Linked DNA regions of Homo sapiens: regions 1, 3 and 4 are each linked to region 2. Evidence: fine-mapped expression QTL. A gene starts in region 2. Each other region holds a variant in brackets. All regions are shown on one strand. Distances are between the middles of the regions.

Region 1 (5,152 bases), 90 kb after region 2:
GGACAAGTCAAGCCCACCTGCCGAGCAGCCCAGCCTCCACTCAGCCTTACCAGCCCCCGGGCTCCTTGGAGACATTGTGGATGAGGGCACCACGGCAGAAGCTCAGCTCATCGCTTCGCTTGGCTTTGTAGTCATACAGAGCTTTCACGGTTCTCTGAGGCTTTCAGGGAAAACAAGAAGGAAAAGGTCAGGCCAGGGACAGGAGGGGAGGGAGGCGGCTGCGTTCCCAGGTACCATTTGGTTCTTCTCATTGGGGAGCAGGAGGCTTCAGGCCAAGGTTACAAAGTCATCTGCTGGAGAGGGACTGGCATTGCAAAGGATCGAAGGCCCCAAAAAGCCACCAGGGAGTGAAGGAGAACTGGCCTAGTCAGAGCCAAGGGTACCTGGGTTGGGGTTAAGGGTTAGGGGTTAGGAGTTAGGGTTTGGGGCTAGGGTTTAGCGCTGGGGTTAGGGTTAGGCTTAGGGTTAGGGTGGGAGTGACCCTATATTGTAGTGACACAATATTGCTCAATTTCCTCAACAAAGAAAGGACATGCCTTTTAGATTAAGCCAAGACTGTCATCACAGTGCCGGTGCTCAGCAAGCCTCCCAGAAGCTCAAGGGCAACCCCATTCTTCCTGCCTGTCCTGAGGGCCTCATTGCTCTGTTTTTGTAGGTCAGCAGTCCCCTATCTACACTCCTGCAGGACCCTGACATTTTGCAAGAGTAACTGAGCTTCTCCTCCATGAAATTCATCAAAAGGTGGTCTCTGTTCACAGAACTAAATAAGATAGAACTTCCTTGGTTAGAAATTTTCTTCAATGAATTTGCTTTCATGCTTTCTGCCTGGCGGGCATAAATGAACACCCACACGGCAAGCAAATGTTAGTGGGAAAAGCTCTGACGTTGTCAAACCTGTTTAAATGAGCAGCTTCCTTCTCCTCCCACCCAAAGGAAATGGGAACAGGAATTTCACAGGGAACCTAGTAAAATTTTTCCTCAGAACACAGGCTACAGAGTCAGATATGTAGGTTCAAATCATTGCTCTGCCCTTGAATAATGATATAAGTTTGAGTCTCTCTGATCCTCAGTTCCCCCGTCTGTGAAATGGGAATTAAATTTTTATATATTTCACAGGGTTGTTAAGACTACTAAATGAGATCATGTGTATAATGATAAAACTGACAACAGCTTGCACTTCTTAAGTGCTAACTATAGTATCGCTAAAGCATTATTCCAAGCCTTAAGGTATCTCCTTTAATCCTTAAGCAACCATAACAGGTAAGTAGTTATATGAGTATGCCCATTTTGCAGATGAGAAAACTGAGATGCAGAGAGAGAAAGTAATTTGCCCCACATCGACCAGCTGTTTTAAGTGGCTCAGCCCAGAACTGGATCCATCAATGTGAGTTAGTGCCATAGTGCATGATGTTTCATAAGAAGCAATGTGGGTTCTAGGAGCTCTGCCACAGGGATCTGCAGCTGGAGGCCAGAGGCTAAGCAGTACCCTTGCCTTTCTCTCCCCCACCTGCAAACAGAGCAGCCTCTACTTGCGTATCCTGCTTCAAGGGTGGATATAAGGACCAGCCAGTCTCCAAGGCCACAGGAAGGAAAAGTCATCAGTTAGAGAGGTGACTGTTCTCATCGCCAAAACATCCTTCACTACTAACAAAAGTTTTTGCTACTAAGGTCTCTTAATGCATTTCACACACAGCTCAATTTGCCCACAACTTTTCAAGATTTCATTTCTTTCTGAAACAGATCTGCATTGGCCATGGATTATAAATTTTTGAAAAAGAAAGTCATCTCTGGATTTCAACAGAGCCCACAAGCAGGGCCCCTTCCTAAGTGAGCGTTGTACACTAATTGTGTGCCACATGGCCCCCAAACAGAAAATTCGCTGTGGTTCTTCCTCTGCCGGCTCAAACTAAATTTGAGATGAAAGCATGGCAAGGAGGAGCCGAGGGCTGAAAGTAAAATCCATCCCTACCTGCATGAAATTACACAACAGAGTCAGGGTGGGAATATGAG[A/T]TAGCATTTGCACTGCAAGGAGGTCAGTGAACCAAATGGAATTTATAAACACCACAGGCTCTGTCAGCGAGCCAAAAACATTTGAAAGACTTTTCATTAGAAGCCATTTGGCCCAAAGGTGGTTCGTCAAACCTCAGAATTTTAGCAAAACACTGTTGCATTTGGATGGAATTCTATTAACATTTTCCCTGAAACTAGGCTTGATATTATCAATCATCCTTTCTTCTCAAAAAAAAAAAAAAATTATTTTGGCCAGGTTTTCCAAAGTCTTCCCTTGCCCTGTTATAACTGCCATGGGAACAAGATGGAATCCACATCAGCCTCGTGACTCCAAAATCATGTGAATTGGAGGTTCGGCACCGTACCATGGACGGATTGATTTCACTGGGATCCACATACATTCTGCTGACGTCGTAGAGGGAGTTTATATCTCTTTCCTGGAAAAAAAAAGAAAGAAAGAAATGGAATAATCCATGCTCCTGGAATAGCCCTTACATATAACAAGGGTTCTAGGCTTCCTTATGGTTACCTATCCTTTGATAGAGGAGTTGAAACCTCATAGAATTTTCTTTTGGCCCATGAGTAGACACAGGAAGAAGCTATAAAGAAGGTCCCCAGACTTGGAAACTAACCCAAAATCAGAGAGGCCCTGTCCTGGCCTGCTGCGTGCCAGGCACTGCGTTCCTTTGTAAAAGCACAAATCCTAAGATGCGATGGTGTGCTGGAGTGACCTCCCGGCTCACAAAAGCCCACTGTGTACATCACTTCCTGACTCCACGTTCCAGGTTCAACGACAGCACATCAACAACTTGAAACTGACCTCCATGGAAGTATTTACACCATGGAAACTGGCAAATGCTACAAACCAGTGCCTTCCCCCTACCCCGCTGAGAGCTGTTTGAACATTTACTAGCACACCACTGACAAGATCCACCCCCACCACCTCTCTGTTCCTCTCTAACTCTTCTTTCTGTTCCTCATGTCACCTTAGGGCTTGTGATGTGGCCACTCCTGTACCTAGAGTCACCCCTTCATTCACTTCTCCCCAGATCCCATTCACTGCTATCTTCCATGTTTCGGCTCACATTTCTCCCCTTTTAAGGTGGCCTTCTCTGATCTCCACTCCCACAGCCTAAGGTAGTGTCCACCCCTTTTCACACTATCCTGTTTTCTTTGCTTTATTATATTTCATGCTACCTGAAAACATCTTAATTGTGTATATTATCTGTCTCTCCTCTCCAGAACCTAAATTTCCCAAAGCAGATTTTGTTCCACAGTACTCCTAGTATCTAGAACAGTCCTTGGCACATGATCGGGATGCCATAAATCTCTCTTCAATAAATTAATGATCTATGTGGTAGGAATGGAGACAAAGTAACCACATCAGGTCTCTCCTGCACCCAGAACTCTCCAATGACTCAGAGAAAAAGCCAGGGCCTTACAATGGCCTATGAGCCCCTGCATGATAAGTCACCTGTGAACCCTCATCCTTATTTAGCTCTACCCCCACCTGGGCTGGCTTGATTCCGGCCATGCTGACTTCCTCTTGGTGCCTCCAGGCAGGCTTCTACCTCAGGACCTTTGCGCATGCTATCCTCTCTTCCTCCAGAACATACCCACATGGCTCATTCCTTTTCAGTGAGATCTTCCTAGACCACCCTCTGAAAACTTCAACCCCTTCCCCATCACTCTGTATCCTCTTATCCACCTGCCCAGTGTTTTTCTCCATAGCACTCATCACCATCTGGCACATGCTATGGATATTTTAAATGTCATTTGTTGCATCTCCCCAACACTACACTATAAGCAGCACAACGGCAGGGTCTTTGTTGTGCTCAATTTGTATCCCCAGGACCTACAGCAGTATCAGATACATGGTGAATACTCAGAGGTTTGCTGAATTCATGAACAGATGAGTTACAACCTCAGACAAGAAATCCCACCAAATCACAAGGGAGTCCACCACCTACCATATTGTAGCGCTCCAGGAGCTCGGGGGTCACGGGGTAGCGCAGTCTCATCTTTCGGTAGAGTGAATGCTTCTCGTAGTAACTGACGAGCTCCACCAGACTCTCAAAATAGGCGGAGGTCCCCAGCACAAAGTGCCGGCCGTCCCGGTTGATGCGACAATGCTTTACCTTGCCCCTAGCCCTGGAGCAGGAAGAACACAGGGTTGACATGCCAAGATCCTGGTGGCCAAACAATTTTTACACAAACCCTACTGATTAGATACAACCTAGTTATCCAGCCTTAGAGAAGTGGGTAAATAAACAGGGTATAGTCCTCCTATGGAATACAAGACAATAAGAAAACAATGATGTGGGTATTTTCAAAACAGATCTAGAAGAATCTGTGTCTCAGAAGAAATATGGCCGAGTGACTCAACAGCTCCTCTTACCCTTCCTCTCCTCCCCAACTACAGGACTTGACTTTAGGAGCTTCCTAGGGAACTAGGTCAAGAGTAGGCCAAATGTGTCCCACCACCTGCTTTTATAAATAAAGCTTTATTGAAACACAGCTACAGTTCATTTGTTTATACATTGTCTGGGACTGTTTTCACACTGTAACAGCAGAGTTGTGTAGCTGCAACAGAGACCATATGGCCTGCAAAACCTAAAATATTCACTCTGTGGTCCTTCACAGAAAATGTTTGCCAATCCCCCCCACCTCAAAATTATTAAATCTTGTCTTCGGTGACTCAACTAGCAAAACAGTGACTTTTTTTAAAAAAAAAAAGAAACAAGTCTTTCATTCCTTCATCTGTTTGAAACATGAAGCAGAAAAAATCCAAAACAGAAGAGCCTCCTTGGTTTTATTAGCTTTTATCAGCAAGACAGAAACATCTGGAAAAATATTTTTGACCCTAAGTTTACAGCCAAGAGGGTCTTTTTAAAAATGTCTACCCCAAATAGCCAAAGCAATTTTGAGCAAAAATAACAAAGCTGCAGATAGCACACTATCTTACTTCAAAATATACTACAAAGCTATAGTAATAAAAATAGCACAACAGTGGCATAAAAACAGACACACAGACCAGTGGAACAGAATAGATAGCCAAGAAATAAATCCATGCATTTACAGTCAACTGATCTTCAATAAAGATGTCTAGAACACACCAGGGGGAAAGGACAGTCTGTTAAAT
Region 2 (5,152 bases):
ACCTCACCCAGCTAATTTTTTGTATGTTTAGTAGAGACAGGGTTTCACTGTGTTAGCCAGGATGGTCTTGATCTCCCGACCTCGTGATCCGCCCGCCTCAGCCTCCCAAAGTGCTGGGATTACAGGCGTGAGCCACCGCACCCGGCCAGAAGCCTTGGCTTTTAATCACAGGTCTGTCATTTACTAGTTCTGTGACCTTGGGTAAGTCACTTAAACTCACCTGATTTCCAGATGCAGTGTGGAACTATTACAAGGTTTCTCTTACCCACCTCAGAGAGTTGTAGTGCTACTACTACTAAGTCATAGCACTTTTAGGGCAGTGCTTATCAGCCTTTACTATACATAGGAATTACCTAGGGATTTTGCTGAATACAGATTTGTATTTATTAAGCCTAGAATGGGATCCAAGACCCAACATTTCTAATAAGCTCTCAGGTGATGTTGATGTTACTGATCCACACTTTTGGATAGCAAAGTTCTCATGTGCCTACCAAGCTCACAATAATTTCCGTTCTTTAGAAATGACCACAGTTTATAGCAGTTCTTGTGTCCTTTTGCCACAGCTGACAATGGTAGAGGTGATTTCTGATCCAAGCTGGGCCAAAAGAAGGTGTCGTTTGCAAGCCTGGGATTTTGAACAGGGACAACCAGAAATGTGACATATATTCATTTGCTGATTCATTCACCAGTAAAAAAAAAAAAAAAAAAAAAAAAAAAATTCTGTCTCTATGCCAGACACTATAGTAGGTAGTGGAGATACACCAATCAATCAAGCAGGTCTCTGCACTCACGGAGCTTTCATTATAGCAACATGCAAGATAATTTCAGATGAGCTAAGTGCTGTGAAGAGATTGAAGAATTTCAAGGGGATGCAGGAGACTTTAAGTGAAAGTGTTGGGGAAAGCCAAGCTCTTACTTCCTCTTCTGTAGTGACCTTGGCAGCCAAGAGTTGAACATGATGGCATAACAAATGGGGGAAGCCTGGGTCCCTGAGTGATTATGTGGAGCACAGCACTCTTCCCCTTCCCTGCAGACTGAATTGGACTGTGATCGGAGTGAGAAATAAAATACTGCACACCTGTGAGTAATTGTGACAGCAAACTGATCTTTCTGAGATGCATCCACTGCCTGGACATATTATTGGGGGAAGACAATACTAAACAAACACTGATATACAAACTCACATTGAAGTTAATTTCTTTCTCCAGTCATTTCTGTCTTAGATCTCTTGGTCAGACCTTTATAAAATCAACTCACTAAATTATGATGGAAGCTAAGGAAGCAATTATAGAGTTTGTAATTTTCCTTTAAAACACGCCTGATTATATTTTAAAAGAGTCCTCGGTGGCACAAGAATACTAACATTTAAATTCACCATTTCTCATGTTTATCCACACACTCTAAATCTGGGTATCCCTCAGAGGATCCTGTAATTCCCCAAAGGAAGTCTGTCTTCTTTACTGCATCCTCAGTGGGTCTTTTCTTCCTTAGCTGCTGGCCTCAAGAGCATATAGCTGGTCTCTCAGCCCCCTGAATACCCTTCCTCTTCTCTTCTAATTTTTATGTATCCTAAGCAGCCACTGCAAAGCTGTTCTTTAAGACTGCTTAGCACAAGAAGTCTCCTGTGACTTATGCCTGCCTAATAGGTGAGGACAAGACAGGCAGGAAAGCCAGAGCATCCTATGAGAGAGGCCAGTGCCAGGGACTGGCACTTCTTGATTTCTTCACCTGGGCTTCATTAATTTTTATATCCTAGGACTTGAGCTTTGTCCTTGTGACTGTGTGTGCTTAGTGAAAACTGAGCAGTAAATCAGGCAATTGATATGAACCTCTCTGAGTCTGCCTTTGGTACCAGATCTATCGGCAAGAGCACCACATGAAGTCAAAACTTCCATCCTCCAAGACACTAAAATGAAATCCTCCCCAGCCAGGGGTCCATTCCAGGATGCATGTCCATACACGTGTACAGTCTGCAACCATCCACAGAACCACACTCATGATGAGGAGACAAAAGATGGGCCTCAAAAGGAGACCTCTGAGTGAGGATGCCAACTTTCCTTTCTGCATTCCTTGGTTCCTTCAGCAACAAAGATTAGTCTTGGCATCACTGCCTGCTTGGCGACCAGAACAAAGAGAAATAAGGAAAATTAGGGACACAGGAAAACCTATGGGCACACATAGATATGGAAACTCAGAGATAATAGAAACTTAAAGAGATACATGGAGAGTGAATATTCTGCCTCCCTATAGAGCCTTTTCCATCATCCATCCACCCAAGCAATGCTGACCTGAGTGCCTATTTATCAGGCACTGGTCTTGGCCTTGGGGATAAACAAAGATGGAGGTGAAAGTCTAAAAGCAGACACTGGAGGTGGGAAGAGCAGTTGACGTGGCCCTAACAGGGTTCCCACCACGGCGGAACGCACAGACAGGGGACGTGGGGGAAGACGTGACCCTAAAAGGGTTCCCGCCACGGCGGAACGCACAGCCAGAGAACGTGGGGGAATTCATGAAGCGAACCTCCTGCTACCTCAACGCCGGTGAAGGTGAAGGAGACACCTGCGCGTCATAGAGACTCCGAGACCTCCAGGCTTCCTAGAGAGGCCCGGAAGTGGCTCCAGGAGGCAGGTCCGACGGCTTCGGCGCCCCAGCTGTGGTGATGGGTAGCTAGGAGGCCTGGGCCTCTCTGCCTGCTGTAGCCGTCTGCCGCGCCCTTGTTCCTGCAGCTGTGAGTGGGCCTGGGCTGGGGTTGGGGGGCCGCCGCCCTTCCGCGGGGACCCTGGACCGCCTCGGCCTGGAACGCGACAGGTGGCGGTCCCGGGGGTGGGGGACGGTGGTGAATGACTGAGCAGGGTGGCGGGAAGGAGTATCCCCTTTCAGATGTCTTCCTGATCCCAGGGGACCGGGCGCAGCTTGGCTTTCTAGAATGTCGCCAAGGCCTCAAACACTGGCCCTCCGCATTTTTTGTTTTTAAGGACATCGGGGCCCCAAGCTCCGAACTTTCCACAGGTGGCTGGCTATACTTGATTCCTGTCTTTGATTTTCTGCACACTTTGGGAGAACGATTACCTCCTCTTTATCACTTGGTTCTGGTTTGCCACTTAAAAGTGGCAGTGACAGGTTCCCATTTAAACTGCATGTATTTGTTGGGAAAAGGTAAGTAGGTTTAAACAAAACCTTATAGGCTAGTCATAATACCAGATGAATCAGATGTGACAGAAATTGTGGAGGTGGAGTGAGCCCTGAAAATCTGAGACGGGTCTCAGTTCATTTAGAAAGTTTATTTTGCCAAGGTTGAAGACATGTACCCATGACACAGCCTCAGGCGGTCCTGACGATGTATTCTTAATGTGGTCAGAGCCCAGTTTCGTTTTCTACATTTTAGGGAGACATGAGACAAGAACAGATGTAAGATGAACATGTTTTTCGGTCTGGAAAGGCGGGACAACTCGAAACGGGGAGGGGGCTTCCAGGTCATAGGTAGGTAAGAGACAAATGGTTGCATTATTTTGAGTTTGATTAGCCTCTCCAAAGGAAGCAATCAGATATGCCTTTATTTTAGTGAGCAGAGATACATGAATAGAATGGGAGGCAGGTTTGCCCTAAGCAGTTCTCAGCTTGACTTTTCCCTTTAGCTTAGTGATCTTGGGACCCCAAGATTTATTTTCCTTTCACAGTGATAAGATAATGACCTAAGCGAATCTGTATTGTCCCAGCCTTATTGTGCGGCATTACATGTAGTGGTTAAGAGTCATACAGACCCGGCTTCAAGTCCTGAACCCTGCCCAACCCCTTATGACCTGCATAATTTGTGGGCAAGGTTCCTAACCTCTGATCTATTTTCCTCATTTCTGAAAGCTGATGATAATACTAGTAACAACTTCGGAAGATTGTCCTGAGGCTTAAATGCTAAACCTTTAAACTACCTGTATTAATCCATTCTCATGCTGCTAATAAAAACATACCCAAGACTGGGTAATTTATAAAGTTAAGAGGTTTGATGGACTCACAGTTCCACATGGCTGGGGAAGCCTCATAATCATGCCAGAAGGCAAAAGAGGAGCAAAGTCACATCTTACGTCTTATATGGTGGCAGGCAAGAGAGCTTGTGTAGGGGAACTCCCCTTTATAAAACCATCAGATCTTTTGAGACTTATTCACTATCAAGAGAACGGCATGGGAAAAACCCACCCCTGTGATTCAGTTACCTCCCACTGGGTCCCTCCCAGGACACGTGGTAATTATGGGATCTACAATTCAAGGTGAGATTTGGGTGGAGACACAGCCAAACCATATCATTCCGCCCCTGGCCCCTCCCAAATCTCATGCCCTCACATTTCAAAACCAATCATGCCTTCCCAACAGTCCCACAAAGTCTTAACTCATTTTAGCATTAACTCAAAAGTCCACACTCCAAAGTCTCATCTGAGGCAAGGCAAGCCCCTTCCACCTATAAGCCTGTAAAATCAAAAGCAAGTTAGTTACTTCCTAGATACAATGGGGGTACAGGTATTGGGTAAGTATACTCATTCCAAAAAGGAGAAATTGGCCACAACGAAGGGGCTACAGGCCCCATGCAAGTCTAAAATCCAGCGGGGCAGTCACATCTTGAAACTCCAAAATGACCTCCTTTGACTCCGTGTCCCATATCCAGGTCATACTGATGCAAGAGGTGGTTTCCCATAGTCTTGGGCAGCTCCACCCTTGTGGTTTTGCAGGGTACAGCCCCACTTTTGGCTGCTTCCAGGGCTGGCGTTTAGTGTCTGCTGCTTTTCTAGGTGTACGGTGCAAGCTGTTGGTGGATCTACCATTCTGGGGTCTGGAGGATGGTAGCTCTCTTCTCACAGCTCCACTAGGCAGTGTCCCAGTGGGGACGCTGTGGGGTGGTTCCAACCCCACATTTCCCTTCCATGCTGCTCTAGCAGTGGTTCTCCATGAGGGCCCCACCCCTGCAGCCAACTTCTGCCTGGACATCCAGGAGTTTCCATACATCCTCTGAAACCTAGGGAGAGGTTTCCAAACCTCAGTTCTTGACTTCTGTGTACCCACAGGCTTAACACCGCATGGAAGTTTCCAAGGCTTGGGGCTTGCACCCTCTGAAGCCCCAGTTTGAGCTGTACCTTGGCCCGTTTTAGCCACAGCTGGAGCAGCT
Region 3 (5,152 bases), 23 kb after region 2:
AAAGCACTTCACAGTGGAAGTGTCTCTGAGCACAGCAAATACCTTAAGTTTGGGCCCAAGTGGAAAAGAAATATTTGGTAGTGGGTGATTATAGCCCTTCAGTGCTCAAGGGACTCATGCATTTGCTTGCACTTCCTTATGCCTGTCCTGGAGCCATCTCTTATTTGCAATGTGACTTTGAGCAAATGCCTCTCATCTGTAAAGTGGAGATAAAACATTCCCTGCTTATCTCTTGGGGGAACTTGTATGGATTTAATGGCACAGAGGCCTTTTGTAACCTGTACAAGAACTATGCACATGGATCCTTAATTAATAGTGTTTCTGCTGGGAAAGATGGAAGGGTTTGGAGGGGAAGCTGGTGTCTACAGGAAGAGATGCAAGACATGCTAGTGGAGTTTGAGACGTTCAAATGGAATGTTCAGTAACTAATTAGCAACATAAGACTGTAGTTTGAAAAAAACAACTGCATATGCGGGTAGAGATGGTTCAGTGAAAATGTTTCATTGATTTCCTGCCATATAACAGGTATTAGTTTATTTACCGTGGCTTTTCTTTTTTTCTTTTGAGACATGGTGTCACTCTGTCGACCAGGCTGAAGTGTAGCACTGTGGACACAGCTCACTGCTGCAGTGCCCTCCTGGGCTCAGGTGATCCTCCTAAGTAGCTAGAACCACAGGTGCACCAGCACACCTAGCTAATTTTTCTGTCGTCTTTTGTAGAGACAGGGTCTCACCGTTTTGCCCAGGCTGGTCTCAAACTCCTGGCCTTAGGTGATCCTCCTTCCTCAGTCTCCCAAAGTGGTGAGATTACAGGAATGAGCCACCGTGCCCAGCCTACCATGTTTTTTTTGTTTGTTTGTCTGTTTCAGACGGAGTTTTGGTCTTGTGGCCCAGGCTGGAGTGCAGTGGCACAATCTTGGCTCACTGCAACCTCCGCCTCCCAGGTTCGAGTAATTCTCCTGCCTCAGCCTCCCAAGTAGGTGGGATTACAGGTGCCCGCCACCACGCTCAGCTAATTTTTGTATTTTTAGTAGAGATGGGGTTTCACCATGTCAGCCGTGATGGTATCGAACTCCTGAGCTCAGGTGATCCACCCACCTCGGCCTCCCAAAGTGCTGGGATTACAGGCTTGATACCATGGTTTTCAATTACTCAATTCAGTCACGTTTTGAGCTCTAAACTGAAAATGAGTTTTTCTTTTCTTGAGATTGCAGAGTCAATTACACCATGCTAGAGAACAAGTAGGCATCTATGCCTCTCTGCTCTAAATTTTGATGTCTATAAACACCCATAGCGGTGTGTGTTGGTTTTAAATTGTGGGGCTAGAAAGCCAACCCAAAATCATCAAGCTTTTATTTCTACACATTCAGAGTGCTTCTGTGTAACTTAGATTTAAAAGTAACTATACAAATAATGCATAGATGTATTTTTCTTATATAATGTTAAAATATTACGGATAAGGCCAAAGACCCCTTTTACTAATGTCCCCAAATTTCATATATGTATATATTTGTATAGAAAACAGGGCTGTGGTGTTCATGTCTTTCCCCATACTACTGTCTCCCACCTCACAGTTCCTTCTGCTACTACGGTTTCTCACTCAATAGTACAGCATGGTGATCTATTGATATTAGTATATATTCTTTATTTGCTGACATAGGAGGTCACCGGGTATATAAAGATGATAAGCATATGTCCTAGTTGGCCTAAGACAGTTCTGGTTTCATGCCTGTAGTCCCACCTTAATTTTTAATAGTGCTTCCTTTCACTCTCAGGTATGTCCCATTTTGTATAATAAATTGTACGATCACCCTATATATAAGACACATAGTTATATGAAGAATTAAGCATTTTTCATAACAGATGTATTAGAAGTTATTGTGAACTGATTTTGAGGGGAAAAAATCTCATTTTGTACTAGAATAGAATATAGTAGAAAATCCTGAATTCTGGGTATGTAGCAGTATTCTACCAACATTGAAATATTAA[T/C]AAAAAATTACCTAAAGAAAATCTTATGTATAGTTTTTCAGTGCTTCTTTTGTGTATCCCTCAGCAAAATAGATTTACTGGTGGAAGAGTAGATGATCTGACACGCGGTCGTATGAAAGCAAACACTGGTTCGGTGGTTCACCGAACACTGGTAACTAGGAAAGACACAAAATAAAATATATCTGAACGAATTCCTCTACAGCACATGCAAAATAAAGCTAATATCAGTAGCAAACTATAATAAATTTGAATAAATTCCTCTGCAAGTAGCCATTGAACATGTAAAAGAATAAATATTTAGTCAATATTGGTACAAATTATGCAGCATAATACACTAGAAAGAATTCCAGTATCAACCTTGCGAAGGCAGCAAATTTAACTATATCACAGAACACTACAGTATTCAAGAAGCAAAAAGGAAAACATTTCGGTGAATTCAAATGGAACTTGATTTTCCAGTAAGTATAGCAACATCAGTCCAAAAGCATTTGTGAAATGCATCATATATGTTTTGCTTTTCATTTTCTCCAAACCTAAAAAGCCATCTAAAATGCCTGAGTATAGGTAATTCTCCTTATACTTAGCCGTCATTGTGTTAGTGATAGAGTCGATAACAGCCTCAAACAACCTCCTTCAATTGTCCTTCACAATGTTGTGGTTATTACTTCAGTAATTTTACTGCCTCAAACCTAGTAAACAAATAACATGGCTTTGCCTCGGCCAGCCCTATTAAGAACAGAGGTTAGGAACAGGTGGCACTGCCAGCTCCCACCCCTACCCCAGGCTGCCCAAGAAACCTGTCGTTCCCCAGCTGTTGATAGAGTCCTGTGTGCCACATCAGAACTTTCCTAACTTCTGCTGTCCACCTACCTCTGATTATGCTTCATGTACCTCCCCAACTTCCCTGCCAGTCTCCCAGGCATAGGCATGACTCATCTACCAGCAAAGGTGAAATCTGAGTTGGTAGATCTAACGCCTGGACTGCCTTTCCATTCCCCACCCTGGACACACATTCAGGGCACAACTGGCGCCAAGGAAGGAGGCTCAGTATGTGAGCTGGGTGGCGCCTGGCCTAGAGCTTGCCTTTGTAAGAACACTAGATGATTGCTACTTTCTCAAACAACGATGGCATAGAATATGTCTTATTTATGGCCATCAGATAAGGTAGATATACCTAGTTCTTAACAGCTGAACAGCATTCCATAGTGTAAATGTACCATGGTAGATTAAGGCATTTCCTTATTGGTGTTTATTCCGTTTGTTTCTAGCTTGCCACCTTATCAGACAGCACAGGCATGGATGCTCTTATATATATATATCTCCTTACATCCACGTTGAAATGAGCTGCTAGGATAGACATCCAGAAGTGGAATTAGAATTTTAATAGGGACTACTGTATCAGACATGCATTCAGCTGCGCATTTAAAAATTATTAACAGTGCCTTGAACAGTAGTTTGTTGTTTTCATGTAACAAGGGGTCCGGAAGTAGGCATACGTGGGATGACGCAGCTCAGTGGTAACATCAGGGACTGGCCCCATCTTTCGGCTCTGTTGGATCCTCATTCTAATGATTCTCACCGCGTGATTCTGAGAAGGTGGCTGCACCCTCAGGCATTATTACAGGCAAGAAGAAAAGGGAAGATAAACAAGGCCAAAGGGAAATGCCAGCTGGGTCTATTTCTTTTAAAAAGCCTTCCTGAAAGCCGACTCCAATTTCTTCTACTGGAAATGAGGGAGGAAGATGGGATTATAGGTGGGGCTTGAGTCAGCCATACTGTTCATCCGCTTCCAAAGTGGCTGTACAAATTTACCCTCCCACCAGAGTTCCTAGTGCCTCCATACCATTTCCAGAACTACCTTACATTTCCATATTTGCCAATCTCATGAGTTTTTTAATATCTCATTTTTTAAAACCTACCCTTTGTAATTACTACTCGAGAGCATCTTGCCAGGTATCTGTTAGACCTTGAGTTTCCTCTTATGTGAATTTCATAGTCATATTTTCCCCTACTTCTCTATTGGGTTGCTCATCATCTTTGCATGGATTTGTAGGATGTAAAAGACGTAACATCTTCTATCATGTAAATCATGGATAGTTTCTCTCTCCCCAACAGTTGCCTTTTAACTTAGTTTCAATTGTCTTTTTAATTATAGTAGTTTTAATTTTGTTGCTAAATTAATCATGGGGGGTTATATTTGTTTATGAAGGTCTTTCCCATTCTGAAGAAATAGATATTGTATGTTTTCTTTTAATAGCTTTAAAGTTTTATTTTTTACCTGTTTACCTTTATCTGGTATTTAGTTTTGTGCATGAGGTGAAGATCTAACCTGGTATTTTCTAAGTGAACAGTCAATTGTCTCAACATAATTTATTAATAATTATCTTTCTACTGAATTCAAATTCTCCCTATTCCCTCTCCTTCTCCTCAAGTTTATCTTTTACTGTGAAGATAACACAACTTCAGCTATTAAGGATTTATTAGGTCTTTTATATTTGCTAAGACATATCCCCACTCAATTTCATTTCATAATTGCAGGCTGTTTATATATACATTTTCCATATCCCTTTTAGAATCAGGTTTTATAGTTCTATGAAAATCTTGAGGGTATTTTTTCAACTGGGTTTGCTTTAATATTACAGTTAAATTTGGAGAGAATTGACATGTACAGTTTTGAGGCGTTGCCTTCATAAACATGGTATACGTCTCCATTTAGTTTTGTGTCCATTTATGAATCTCCATTTATGAATCTTCTGCAAATGATTTTTTTTTCTGAGACAGAGTATCGGAGTATCACTCTGTCGCCCAGGCTGGAGTGTGGTGGGGCAATGTCGGCTCACTGCAACCTCCACCTCCTGGGTTCAAGCGATTCTCCGGCCTCAGCCTCCCGAGTAGCTGGGACTACAGGCATACACCACCATGACCAGCTAATTTTTGTATTTTTAGTAGAGACAGCATTTAGCCATTTTGGCCAGGCTGGTCTCATACTCCTGACCTCCAGTGATCTGCCCACCTCGGCCTCCCAAAGTGCTGGGATTACAGGTGTGAGCAACCATGCCTAGCCAAGATTCTGCGTTTTCTATGTTAAGGTCTTGGATATCTTTTGTTAAGTTTATTCTAGGTAATTTAAGGTTATTATTTCTACTATTGTGAATATCTTTTTA
Region 4 (5,152 bases), 42 kb after region 2:
AGCCCAGACACAGATCATTGAAATTATCCAGCCAGAGGAGCAAAAACAGGAAGAAGAAGAGAAGTGGGGGGAGGGGGAAGAAGGGAGAGGTAAGAGGAGGGGGAAGGAGAGGAAGAGGAAGATGAGGGAAGGAGAAGGAAGGAAGAACAGAAGGAAGGAAGAGGAAGAGAAAAAAGCCTCACAGACTTATAGGACACCATAAGCAGACCAAAATACTCATTATGTTAGTTCCAAAAGTAGAAGAGATAAAGAGACAGAAAGCTTCTTTAAATAAATAATGTCCAAAAACTTGTCAAATCTCTGAAAGAAAATGGACCCAAAGGGAATAAACTCAAAGAAGTCCATATTGAGACATCAGTTGTCAAAAGTCAGAATTTTGAGAGCAACAAAAGGGACTAATTACATACAAGGGAACTCCCATAAGAATCAGTGAATTTCTCAGCAGAAACCTTGCAGGCCAGAAAAGAATGGGACAGTATATTGGGAGTGCTGAAAGGAGGGGGAGAAAAGGTTGTTCAAGAATACTGTATCTGGCAAACTGTCCTTTAAAAGCAAAGGAGAAATAAAGACTTTTTCAGATAAAATTTGAAGAAGTTCATCACCGCTAGGCCTGAATAACAACAAATACTAAAGTTCTTGAAGTTTAAACAGACTCTAAGCAGCCATACAAAAGCATATGAAAGTATAAAGTTTGCTGGTAAAGGTAAGTATATAGCTAAACACAGAATACTATATTGTTAGTGTATACATCACTTTTAATTCTGGTACAGATGTTAAAAGCCAAAAGTATTTAAAAACTATGAAAATATGTAAGGGATACACAATATAAAAAGATAAAATTTATGACATAATTGACAAAGTTTGGAGGAAAGAGTAAAACTGTAGAGTTTTTCAATGTGATTACAGTTGTTATCAGCTTAAAACAGATTGTTACAACTATAAAATGTTTCATGTAAGCCCTATGTTAGCTACAAAAATTACAAAAAATCAACAAAGGAAGACAGTGAAAGAAGAAAAGGGACAAAAGAGCTGCAAGACAGACAGAAAATTATTAACAAAATGGCAATAGTTAGTCCTTTCCTATCAATAATTAAATGTAAATGTATTAAACTGCCCAGTCAAAAGACACAAAGTAGCTGAAGGATAACAAGATTCAACTAGATGCTGTATATAAGAGACTGACTTTAAGTTTAATGACACACATATACTTAAAGTGATAGGATGGAGAAAGATACGCTAAGCTACTAAAAGAGGGGTGACCATACTTAAACAAAATAGACTTTAAGTCAAAAGCTGCTACAAGAGACAAAGAAGGACAGATAATGATTAATGGGTCAGTTCACCAAGAAGATATAATAATTGTAAATATGTATGTACCAAACATCAGAGCACTTAAATATATGAAACAAACATCGGCAGAACTGAAGGGAAAAACAGCATCGCAATAATAGTAGGAGATTTCAGTAATGAATAGAACATCTAGACACAGGATCAATAAGGAAACAGAGGGCTTGAAAAATACTATAAATCAAATGCACCTAATAGTCATATACAGAACATTCCACCCAACAGTAGCAGAATACACATTTTCTCAAGTGCACACAGAAATATTCTCCAGGACAGATCACAAAGCAAGTCTTAACAAACTTAAGAAGATTGAATTCTCAAATTTATTTCCAACTACAGTGAAATGAAACTAAAAATCAGTAGGAGAAGGAAAATCAGAAAACTCATAAATATATGGAAATTAAATAACACCTACTCTGGAACAACCAATGGGTCAAAGAAGATATAAAAAGGTAAATTATAAAATATCTTTAGACAAAACAAAAACATAACTCATGGAGAAAAAAGCAGTAGGAAGAGGAAAATTTGTGGTGATAAATTCCTACCTCCCAAAAGAAGAGCTCAAATAACCTAACTTCTATACCTCAAGGAATGAGAAACAAACAGACTAAGCCCAAAGATGGCAGAAGAAATGAAATAATAAAGATTAAGGTAGAAGTTATCAAAGTAGAGAATAGAAAATTAAGACTGAATCATAAAGAAATAGAACATCTGAACAGACTTTTAGCTAGTAAGGAGATTCAATCAGTAATCAAAAACATCTCAAAAAAGGCCCAGGACCAGAAGATTTTGCTGATGAATTCTATTAAACATTTAAAGAACAATTAAGACGAATGCTTCTGAACTTTTAAAAAGTAGAAGAGGAACGAATACTTCCGAAGTCATTTTATGAGGCCAGC[A/G]TTACCCCAGTGCCAAAGCCAAAAACAGACATTACAAGAAAAAAATAATGCAGACCAATATCCCAGATATAGATGCAAAATTCTTAACAAAATACAAGCAAACCACATTCAATAGCACATTAAAAGGACATACACCATGATGACTAAGTGGGATTTAGTCACTTATAAGAGACTGGAGAGTATCCCTAGGACATAAGAATGATTACAAATATGCAAATCAAAAATGTGATACACCACAGGAACAGAACAGAGGATAAAAATTACATGATCATATCAATAGAAACAAATTGCGTTTGGCAAAATTCAACACCCTTTTGTGATTAAAAAAACTTAGGAAACTAGGTGTATTAGTCCATTTTGTGTTGCTATAAAGAAATACTTGAGATTGGATAATTTATTTTGGCTTTCAGTTCTGTGGACTGTGAAGCATGGTGCCAGCATATGCTTCTGGTAAGGCCTCATGAAGCTTTTAGTCATGGTGGAAGAGAAGGGCAGCCAGTGTGTCATATGGCAAGGGAGGTAACAAGAGAAATGCCAGGCTCTTCTCAACAACCAGCTCTTAAATGAACTAAGAGTGAGAACTCACTCATTACTGTAGGGAGGGCACCAAGCCATTCATGAGGGATCTGCCCCCATGACCCAAACATCTCCCACTAGTCCCTACCTCCAACACTGGGAATCACATTTCAATATGAGATCTGGAAGGGATGACTATCCAAATCATATCACTAGGAATAACAAGGAAATTACCTCAACATAATAAAGGCCCATATATGAAAACACGACAGTTAACATATTCAAAGGTAAAAAACAAACTTTTCGTCTAAGATCAGGAAAGAGGTGAGGATGCTCACTCTCACCACTTCTATTCAGCATACTAGTGAAGGTTCTAGCCAGAGCAAGTAGACAAGAAAAAGAAATAAAAGGCACGCAAACTGGAAAGGAGGAAGAAAAATTATCTTTGTTCACAGATAACATGATTTTAGGTGTAGAAAATCCTATAGATTCCACCAAAGGGGAAAAAAACTGTTAGAACTAATAAATTCAGTAAAGTTACAGGATTCAAAGTCAGCATACTAAAATTAGTTATGTTTCTGTACACCAACTACAAGCAATCTGGAAAGGAAATTACAGCAATCGCATTTATAACAGCGTCAAAAAGAAAACACTTAGCAATAAACTTAACCAAGGAAATGAAAGACTTGTACACTGAAAACTATAAAATATTGCTGAAAGAAATTTAAAACACAAATAATGGAAAGACATCCTATGTTCATGAACTGGAAAACTTAATATTGTTAAAATGTCCATATTACCCAAAGTGATCTACAGATTCAATGTCATTCCTACCAAAATCCTAATGGCATTTTTTACAGAAATAGAAAACACAATCCTAAAATTCATATAGAACCACAAATGATCCCAAATAGCCAAAACAATCTTGAAAGAGAACAAAGGTTGAGGTCTCATACTTCCTAATTTCAAAACACACTTCAAAACTACAGTAATAAAATATTATGGTACTGGCAAAAGACAGACATATAGATCAATGGAACAGAATAGAGAGCCCAGAAATAACCCTATGCACCTAAGATCAACCGATCTTTGACAAAGCTTCCAAGAATACACAGTGGGGAAAGAATAGTCTCTTCAAAAAATGGTGTTGGGAAAACTGAAAATCCGCATGCAAAAGAATGAAATTGGTCTCTTAACTTATATGTGAAAATCAATTTAGAATTGATTAAAGACTTAAATATAAGACTTAAAGCCATAAAACTGCTAGAAGAAAACAGAAGAAAAGCTTCATGACATGGGTCTTAGCAGTGATTTCTTGGATATGACCTCAAAAGCTTGGGCAACAAAACAAAGGTAAGTAGAACTGTATCAAACTAAAAAGCTTCTGCACACAGCAAAGGAAATATTCAGGAGAGTAAAAAGGCAACCTCTGGATTGAGAGAAAATATTTGAAAACTGTACATCTGATAAGGAGTTAATATCAAAAACAAGGAATTCCTATAACTCAATAGCAAAAACCCACAATTTTTTAAATGGGCAAATGACTTAAATAGACATTTTTCCAAAGAAGACATACAAATGGTCAACAGGTATATGAAAAGATGTTCAACATCACTAATCTTCAAGAAAATGCAAATTGCCCAGGCGTGGTGGCTTACGCCTGTAATCCCAGCACTTTGGGAAGCCAAGGCAGGCAGATCACTTGAGGTCAGTAGTTTGAGACCAGCCTGACAGACATGGTGAAACTCCATGTCTACTAAAAATACAAAAAAATGAGCCGGGTATGGTGGTGTGCACCTGTAATCCCAGCTGCTTGGGAGGCTGAGTCAGGAGAATCTCTTGAACCTAGGAGGCAGAGGTTGCAGTGAGCCAAGATCTCAGCCCTGCACTTCAGCCTGAGCGACAGAGTGAGACTCTGTCTCAATAAAATAAAATTTAATTTAATTTAAAAAAAAAAGAAAATGTAAAAGCCACAGTGAAATATCACCTCACACCCTTTTAGGATGGACATTATTAGAAAAATATGTATATAACAAGTGTTGACGAAGATGTGGAGAAATAGGAAACCTTCTGCACTGTTGGTGGTAGAAGTGTAAAATGATGCAGGCATTATGCAAAGCAGTGTGGAGGTTCCTCAAAAATTAAAACAGAGGTACTATACGTTCTAGCAATCCCACTTCTGCATATTTAGCTAAAATAATCAAAATCAGGAACTGAAGGAGAGATTTGCACTCTCCAGTTCATCGTAGCATCATTCACGATAGTCAAGAGGTAGAAACAACTTAAAGTGTACATGGACAGATGAATGGACAAAGAACATGGGGTATAGGCATACGATGGAATATTATTCAGTCAGAAAACAGAAGGAAATCCTGTCAGATGCTACAACT

The links. PIP is the estimated chance that this variant, and not a neighbour inherited with it, causes the effect. A credible set is the group of variants that fine-mapping cannot tell apart.
Region 1: its variant is the best candidate, but not a certain one, in a credible set for the expression of SDR42E1 in esophagus mucosa (GTEx, PIP 0.81).
Region 3: its variant is the best candidate, but not a certain one, in a credible set for the expression of SDR42E1 in whole blood (TOPMed, PIP 0.50).
Region 4: its variant is the best candidate, but not a certain one, in a credible set for the expression of SDR42E1 in pancreas (GTEx, PIP 0.85).

What each region holds. Positions count from the first base shown.
Region 1 is chr16:81,918,493-81,923,644 of GRCh38, reverse strand. It overlaps PLCG2 (phospholipase C gamma 2), which reads right to left. Exons shown (of 33, transcript NM_002661.5): 20 at 3,981-4,161; 21 at 2,376-2,447; 22 at 51-160. Among named protein-coding and RNA genes, the nearest start is that of SDR42E1, 90 kb to the left of the region's middle. The variant A/T (reference allele first, on the strand shown) is at 2,011.
Region 2 is chr16:82,008,963-82,014,114 of GRCh38, reverse strand. SDR42E1 (short chain dehydrogenase/reductase family 42E, member 1) reads left to right here and starts at 2,645. Exons shown (of 3, transcript NM_145168.3): 1 at 2,645-2,728. RefSeq lists enhancers at 2,301-2,380, 2,391-2,480 and a silencer at 2,721-2,870.
Region 3 is chr16:81,985,712-81,990,863 of GRCh38, reverse strand. SDR42E1 (short chain dehydrogenase/reductase family 42E, member 1) reads left to right here. Exons shown (of 3, transcript NM_145168.3): 3 at 1-2,009. Among named protein-coding and RNA genes, the nearest start is that of SDR42E1, 23 kb to the left of the region's middle. The variant T/C (reference allele first, on the strand shown) is at 1,989.
Region 4 is chr16:81,967,311-81,972,462 of GRCh38, reverse strand. No RefSeq gene overlaps it. Among named protein-coding and RNA genes, the nearest start is that of SDR42E1, 42 kb to the left of the region's middle. The variant A/G (reference allele first, on the strand shown) is at 2,247.